Homo sapiens: one gene and its partner. The protein of the gene in region 2 purifies or fractionates together with the protein of the main gene of each other region. This does not show direct contact. Each region holds a gene or a part of one and is shown on either strand. Other genes may lie near its edges. The genes, in order: GALNT7 and SLC25A38.

Evidence for each region.
Region 1: the proteins of SLC25A38 (region 2) and GALNT7 purify together in Homo sapiens (affinity purification with mass spectrometry; one large-scale study listed by BioGRID and IntAct). This does not show direct contact.

Annotation. Positions count from the first base shown.
Region 1 is NC_000004.12:173,315,276-173,319,096, reverse strand, and holds part of GALNT7 (N-acetylgalactosaminyltransferase 7), read right to left. Parts: intron 1,464-3,821; coding exon 1,365-1,463; intron 667-1,364; coding exon 538-666; intron 1-537. UniProt on the Homo sapiens protein: Glycopeptide transferase involved in O-linked oligosaccharide biosynthesis, which catalyzes the transfer of an N-acetyl-D-galactosamine residue to an already glycosylated peptide.
Region 2 is NC_000003.12:39,386,347-39,390,167, reverse strand, and holds part of SLC25A38 (mitochondrial glycine transporter), read right to left. Parts: exon of another isoform or gene 2,326-3,821; coding exon of another isoform or gene 2,303-2,325; exon of another isoform or gene 807-2,302; coding exon of another isoform or gene 779-806; intron 674-778; coding exon 552-673; intron 1-551. UniProt on the Homo sapiens protein: Mitochondrial glycine transporter that imports glycine into the mitochondrial matrix.

The DNA of each region.
Region 1 (3,821 bases), on a different chromosome or scaffold from region 2:
AAATTTGACCATTAAAGTAAGCAACTAGCTACATTTATCCCACTGTATTTAGCACACAACAATGATAAAGACGTTATGAAAGCCTAGATTTCAAGTTTTATTTGTTTGTCTCTATCTCCACCTGCTGGACAATATCAAATATTAACCAAATTTTTAATAGTATAAATATATTTAAATATATTTTACTTTAATGAATGATTCATTTACATTTCAAAAATCAGATTTTGATGAGAGCAATGGTGATGACTGCCTCACAGAACACTGACTTTCTTGTATTACTAAAATTAGCAGTGCTCTTTATAGACATCATCGTGGCCTCATTACATGACAATATTGTAAGAGAGAACAAAAGTGATGCCTCATTATAGAACAATGAGTCATCCAGTGCTCAGGAAAACCTATGCAAGGGACTAAATGAGAGGAAAATGCAAGTGAATTTGAATGCAGGTTTTAAGATTTATTTATCTAAATTCCACATGCTAGATGTTACTGAAAATGAAAAGCATATAATATTTCAGAAGTTAAAATGCAGAATACCTTGAAGTACTGCCATTCCTTAAATTCATTTAGATTACAGTGTGTAATCATAACTTTTGATCCATCAGCTCCCTTTGTCAAACACTGGTCATACTGCATGAGTTGATTTGCTTCATTGATTCTGAAAAGCTGTAAAAGGAAAAGAGAGAATTAAGTAACAGAGGCACCTTCCCTGCTGATGTGCATTTGAAAAGAAAGAAACTTAACTCCTATAATTAAATTGAATGACTAACTTATTTTTCCATAATTTTGTTTAGAACTGTAAGTCCACAGACAAATTATATTTATTTTGATGTTAGTGAAGATCCTTATTAACACTGAAATCATTAAGTTCTTTAGTCTCTAAGATACCAAATGGGTCACTAACACAAATTTATTAAGTACCAACAATGTGAAAAAATGAAAAAGCAAAAACATACCCACATAAGTAAGAGAATATATATTAGTGAAATATACATTACTGGCAGTAACACTCTATTTGCAAAAAGATGAGGATTAGTGAGCAATACTTGCAAAAAATTGTTAGGGAGCTAGGCTTACATAGTTACGGTAGTGACAAATATATACTCCCACAGGAATATATTTTAATCCCTTATATTAGACATTAATTCTAGATTCTGACTGCTTATGTGAAAACCAATACTGCTATTATTCCCATCATTTAAGTGAATGTTTTAACACTGTCAATTTTTTTACAGAATGTTTTACTTTATCAAAACAAACAAAATTACCAAATCGAAAACCAAAGTACAAAGATCACTCTGTGATCAATAAACCTGATGGCCCTCAATACGGAACAACTTAAACACAAAAGTAAGGTGGTTTACCTGATTCCCTCCCATCCTGTGGCAGGGTCCTAGTTCAACAAAGCCTCCATTTGTTTTTCCCATGCTATCAATGCAGTAAGCAGTTTCGAAGCCTCTGATCTAAAAAAATGAATAAAGACGCAAAAAGCAGGCAACAGTTTAGTTTTTGATGAACTCTGGCATCAGAATTTAACATTTCATGTTAAATATTACAGTTTACAGGGAAAATCTGGGTATGTGTAGTGACAGGTTATTACTGGATTGTCAATCTTTACATAGTTTTGAAATAACTTATGGTCTTGAAGTCAACACTGGAATGGGTTCTTTCTCTAAGAGCAAAGGACTATACATTTCCGTAAAATACCACAGAGAAAAAAAAAGTTACCATTAATTGCAATTTCAGAATCACAGTAATTCATGTGAATGAGAAGCAAATAGAGAACCTAACCACAGTGGTAATAAACACTGGCCTGGCCCTAGATATCTAGAACAGACTGGATTTGTAAGGGACCTCTCCCAAATGGCTATGCAGCACTTTTGGTAGCTGCCTGTAGGGGTCTAGGGTGCATAGGCCATGCATGGCACATGACCAGGCAGTGAGGCTTTTCTCTATAAACGTAGATGAAAAGCAAACACAGGTTTCCATCTTTGGAATGTACATTTTGTATGAAAAGAACTATTTTTGGAAAAGCCATTTATTTCTCTGAATTATAAATCGCTATACTATTTGGATAAAATGTTTTATTCTTGCATTCAGTCAGCAAATATGGACTGTGCACCTATAATGATAACAGGTTTTGAGGATATGAAGAGGTGCAAGTCATGGTCCTCACCGCCTGTAGAGAGACAGAGGGGTAGTGGACCAGTCAGGACAGAGGTGTGAATGTACAGAGGAAGAGCTGCTCACCCTGCCTGGAGGAGCTCCAAAGACTGCCCCAAGAGACACCTTTAAAACAGGTAGGGGTTTACCCTGGAATGTTAAGGAAATGCCGAGAAATGAAGTATAAAGTGCAGATGTCAGAATGGGAAGAGGTTAAACTGAAGATATACTTGGGAGTGAGACAGTAAAAGGAGGACAGAAAATTCCATTTATTCATTCATGTATTTATTCAATCATCAAATATTAAGTACCTGATGTGTGCCAGGCATGTTGTAGGCTCTGAAACACTAGTGAACAAAATAAAGACACCTACCCCAGTAATGGGCATGCCACAGTGAATGTGGGCCCCTGCCTCCATTCACTCTGGGAATGTAAGGGAAAAAAGACAGAATATAAGTTAAAAAACATAGTAGACAATTTGTCTGTTATGGCAAAAGGTGATAAGTGTGGTGAAAAAAAGGAAAAGAAGAGGAAGTTAGGGTGGGAGCTAGGGCGTTGGGAAGTAACAAGGTGGACCTCACTGAGAAGTGGTAGGTCAGCAGACTTGAAGGAGGTGTGAGAGCTGGCCATGCATGCGTGTATCTGCAAGGAAGCATTCCTGGCAGAGGGAACAGCACAGGCAGGCACATGCCTGGAGGGAGTCTGAGGACCAGTAAGGACATGGGGCTGGAGTGGAGTGGGGAGAGCAGTAGCAGGTGAGGCCAGAGAGGAATGGGGACAGATGTTGTGGATCTTGGAGACTACCAGAAAGGACTTTGTCTTCACTCATAGGTGAAGGTGCAGGGTTTCTAGCAGAAGAAGGACATGATTTGCCTTTATTTTAAAACAGTCACTCTGACTGCTGTATTTGAAATAGGCTGTAGGAGAGTCAACAAGTTAGTCTCAGTGAGAGATGATGGTGGCTTAGACCAGGCAACAAGGGATCAGATTCTGGAACTAGATATGAAGTGCGAGACAAAGACAGGATTCATGGAAGACTCCAAAGTTTTTGACCAAGAAATCAGCAAAGATGGGTTGGGGGGAGGAGATAGGAAGTTCAATTTAGGCTATGTCGAGTTTGAAATGCCTGTTACACATTCAAGTCCTGATGTTAAGCATACAGTTGGATATACTTGTCTGGGCCCTCAGAGAGAGATCTGTGTGTTGAAAGGCTTATGGTCTAGTTGGAGTTAAACATAATTTGCTGTAATAGGACAGGTAAAATAAGAGTATAGGGAAAAAGTATATTAAAGCAAGAAGTACAGAGAGAGCAGCATGAGTGTCCTCTGTTGGTTTTTCCTTCTATTCCTGAACTCTAAATGCTGGCGTTTCTGACGGATGGGTCTAGTCTTCTCTTCTCTATCTGTGTTTTCTCCCTCGGGGACCTCATTCAGTCCCATGAAACGACCTACCTGCTGATGGCCCCAAATGCACATCTCCAGAGTGGCCTCTCTTCTGGACTTTGGCATCATACAACCTACAATCTATGATCAGTAGGCCTTAATGGCTCTACCTGGACGCCTAGCAGGTACTTCACATGCCCAGAACACCAACAGAAGCCTTGCCCCCTCCATTCACTCCCCTACTATCTTCCCAATCTCAGCAGCCACCTAATCAGC
Region 2 (3,821 bases):
GAAGTTTGAGACCAGCCTGGCCAACATGGCGAAACCCCATCTCTACCAAAATTACAAAAATTAGCTGGGTATGGTGGCGAGCACCTGCAATCCCAGCTACCTGGGAGGCTGAGGCAGGAGAATCCCTTGAACCTGGGAGGCAGAGGTTGCAGTGAGCTGAGATCGCACCTCTGCACTCCAATCTGGGCAACAGAGCGAGCATCTGCCTCAAAAAACAAATAAAACAAAAACAAAAACAGATAATACTGATGTTATTTCCAGAAAATCCCCTGGTACTCTCATGCCAGGCAATACAGTTATAACATCACAAGCTAACACAATAAAGTGTAAATGTCACTGAGCCGATTCCAGGAAGCTGCTCAGGAACGGACCCCATTTAATTAAAAAGAAATGTCAAATATAAAAACAATTCAGAGAACATATGAAAGTTGGGCATGGCCTGTGTTTCTCTCTGAACATCCAACAGAATGGAAGTTGACTTAACACAGTAAAGATGTTCCTGTGTCTGAGAAGTTGCTGAAATCAGTTCCCCAATGAAATGCAGGGCCTACCCATGATCTGAGGGCTGGAGGGTTTGCAGGCGTGTTTTAAGGAGATCCAGAGGTTGGAAAAGGAGGGTAGAGCAGGTCCCACTGATGGAGCCACACAGGAAAGCCTTGATCACCGGATGTAACTGCAGGATAAGACAATATTGTGTCAGTAGCTCTGCCTGTGTGAGCCTCACCTTTCTCTATACCTGACCAGCAAATTCCTTTATAATGGTCTCTTAGACACTTACCTGGTGGTGCCTCATGTTTTCTTCATACCTCGGAGAAGGAAAAAGTATAGCCAGAAATTAAAAATACTGCAATGTTATTGAGGACATTGGATGCTGCAAGAGGTATCTCTGGTCTTCGTATTGCTGATAGACATATTGCTCAGTGGGAGCAAAACTATTTCCATGCCACTGACCACTCTTCCCTATTTGTTCTGACTCAAAAAGTTACTGGTCATCTCCCTATCTTTGCAAAAGCAAAGTCAATTGAATGCAGTGCTTTCACTTTGAACTGATGATGTGCAGACTCCCTTCGCTCTAAGACCTATAGGTATTTATAGGACCAAGCCAAAGCAAATGAAACCTTAAGCTCAACCACTGTGTAAAATGTAAGTGCCACTTCCTGTAGAACCTAGTATTTCCTTCATTTAAAACTTTCCCCTTACCATCTCACTGGGCCCTAAGCAGATCACACAGTCCTACAGACCAGTAGCCTCCCCTGGCTTTGCTGCTTCTCCTTCAACCCATGAACCGTCATATACACTGGCTAATCTACAGACACCACCTGGAAGGGTGGAACTCCTTCAAAGACTAAATATACCTCCCTTAGTTCCAGGAGCTGCAGCTTCCAGCACTGGTGCTATCATTACAGGACAGCATCCTTTCTCCAGACCCCTAGAACCCAGTAGTATCACAAATGACTGTGAAAAGGTACTTAAAATCCAACCAGTGACCTTCTTCCCCTTCCCTAAAATAAATAAATAAATAAATAAACAAATAGCTATCTTCTCCAAAAATGTTTGGCAAATTCATCCCCAAAGACCTCTTCCCTTATTAAGTGGCATTTGCACTATTATTTTTTAAATAAATGACACATTGTGGCCCTAAAACATTAAGATGAATATATATAAAGTTTCCATTACACATCACATAACTACTTACCTGGAACTGAAATATTTGTAATCTGCAGTATTTGCTTAACAGAGAAGAGAGTGTATCTCAAATTCCACCAAAGAAGCCAGTTATAACTGGAATTCCTCATAAGACTGTTGGAGGCAGGGGGTGGGGGGAACTAAGGTCATTAAAAACTGGAGTTTACAACCACGATGCAATAACTTCTGAAGTACCAAAGGGTGGTCTGATAAGACAACAGGTAAAACCAAGTAAGGTGTGCGTATTTTAGCAAGTCTGTATCTACATCAACTCCCTCTCCCCAAGAGGTGTCCTGCTCTTCTGCCAACCAATATTCTCATGAGTTCTGTGTTTCTAGTCTCTCCCCAAGACTTTGTGGCATTAATGAGCCCCCCTTCTTCACACACTGGGTCTCTCGCTCCCACTGGCATCTCCTCTTCTGCCAGGCAACAGGCTCCAAAGCATCCATCTTTCCAGCCTGACGCTACACCATCTCCACTTGCTCTGTGCCAGTCCCTCCGCAGGCCCCCCCAGTTTGCTATCCAGCTAAATCTCCTCCACTAACACAGCCTCTGAGGGCTCACCAAGCACCTGCTGCACCCCAGGACCCCGTTCCTGTCCCTGCCCTTATCTTACTTGGCCTCTCTGGTACATGCCATATAGCTGAGTGCCTCTCCTCACAGTTTCTGGTTTCTCTCTCCTTCTCTTCTTTGGCCTGCCCTTCACATAGGACTGCTCCTCTTATCTCCTTTCAGAGTAACCTCACCCATATCCAGGCTTCACACACATGCTGGTAATGCCCACATCTCCAGCCCAGGCTGGCCTCTCCCCAGACTCTGCTAATGTCTCCTTGTCTTCCCTCAAATGGCCCACAGGCATCTCAAATTCAACATGTCCAAAATGGAAACTTGGTCAACAGTTCTCCACACACTTGCCTCTTCTCCAATCCACACTGGGATACTCCAGGAATCCAGGTTGGAAACCTCAGAGACACATAAAACTCACCATGCCTGCTGCTACATGACCAAGTCCCACTGACCAAGCCCTCAATCTTCCCAGTCTGGCCTCCACTGATCCATCCTAATGACCTCTGCAGCAGTCTCCAGCCTCAACTATGCCAACCCACCCTCCACTCTGCTCCCAGAGTAGCACTGGGCGAGGCATCTATAGACACCACCTCAAAATCTCATAGCATCTTATGAGCTAGGTATTTTAAACCCGTTTTACAGATTAAACTGGAGCTCACAGAGGTTACAAATGTGTCCTATGTCACAGGGGTTGAAGCCACTGGCCAGGACTTAAAGTTCATACTCTTTTCACCATACCACCCAGTCTAAAGTGAAAATCCAGGATACTTAGGCCACTCAGTGCATTCCACTATTCACCACCACTCCCTCCTTGAAATGCTCTCTTCCTTTGGCTTCAGAGATTAATACTGTCCTGGGTTTCCTCCCACTTCTCTGGCCTCTCCCTTAAATGAACCATACTCCCATGGCTCTTCATCCACTTCCAAGGGTTCCATTTCCACCCTCCCCTCCACACTCTCAGCCTCTCGCTGGAGCTCAGTCTCACACAGCCACGTACTCAGATGGCCACCTCAGATGATGTTTCCAAACCTGAACTTACCTTTCTCCCACACCTCCGACCAGCTCCTCCTCCAAGGTGCCCCATCCCAGTGAATGCCATGCCATTTCTCTAGCACCCCAGCCAGAAACCTGAGCACCATCCTTGGACTTGGCCTCTCCACACTTGTTCACTCTATCTCCAAAACAGCTCTCAAATCCACCAATCCATTCCAGCTGAGAACCCTGTTATCTCTTGCCTTGGTGACGGCCACCAATTTTTTACCCATTTGTCATCTATATGACCCCTCTAATCCACTCTTTACCCTGAAGCCATAGTCATCTTCTGTTTTATTATTTATTTAGAGACAAGGTCTTGCTCTGATGCCTAGGCTGGAGTGTAGTGGCACAATCATGGCTCACTGCCAACCATGACCTCTCAGGCTCAGGTGATCCTCCCACCTCAGCCTCACGAGTAGCTGGGACCACAGGTGTGTGTCACCGTGCCCAGCTAATTTTTTTGTAGAGACGGGGTTTCGCTATGTTGCACAGGCTGGTCTCAAACTCCTGGACTCAAGCAATCTGCTCACCTC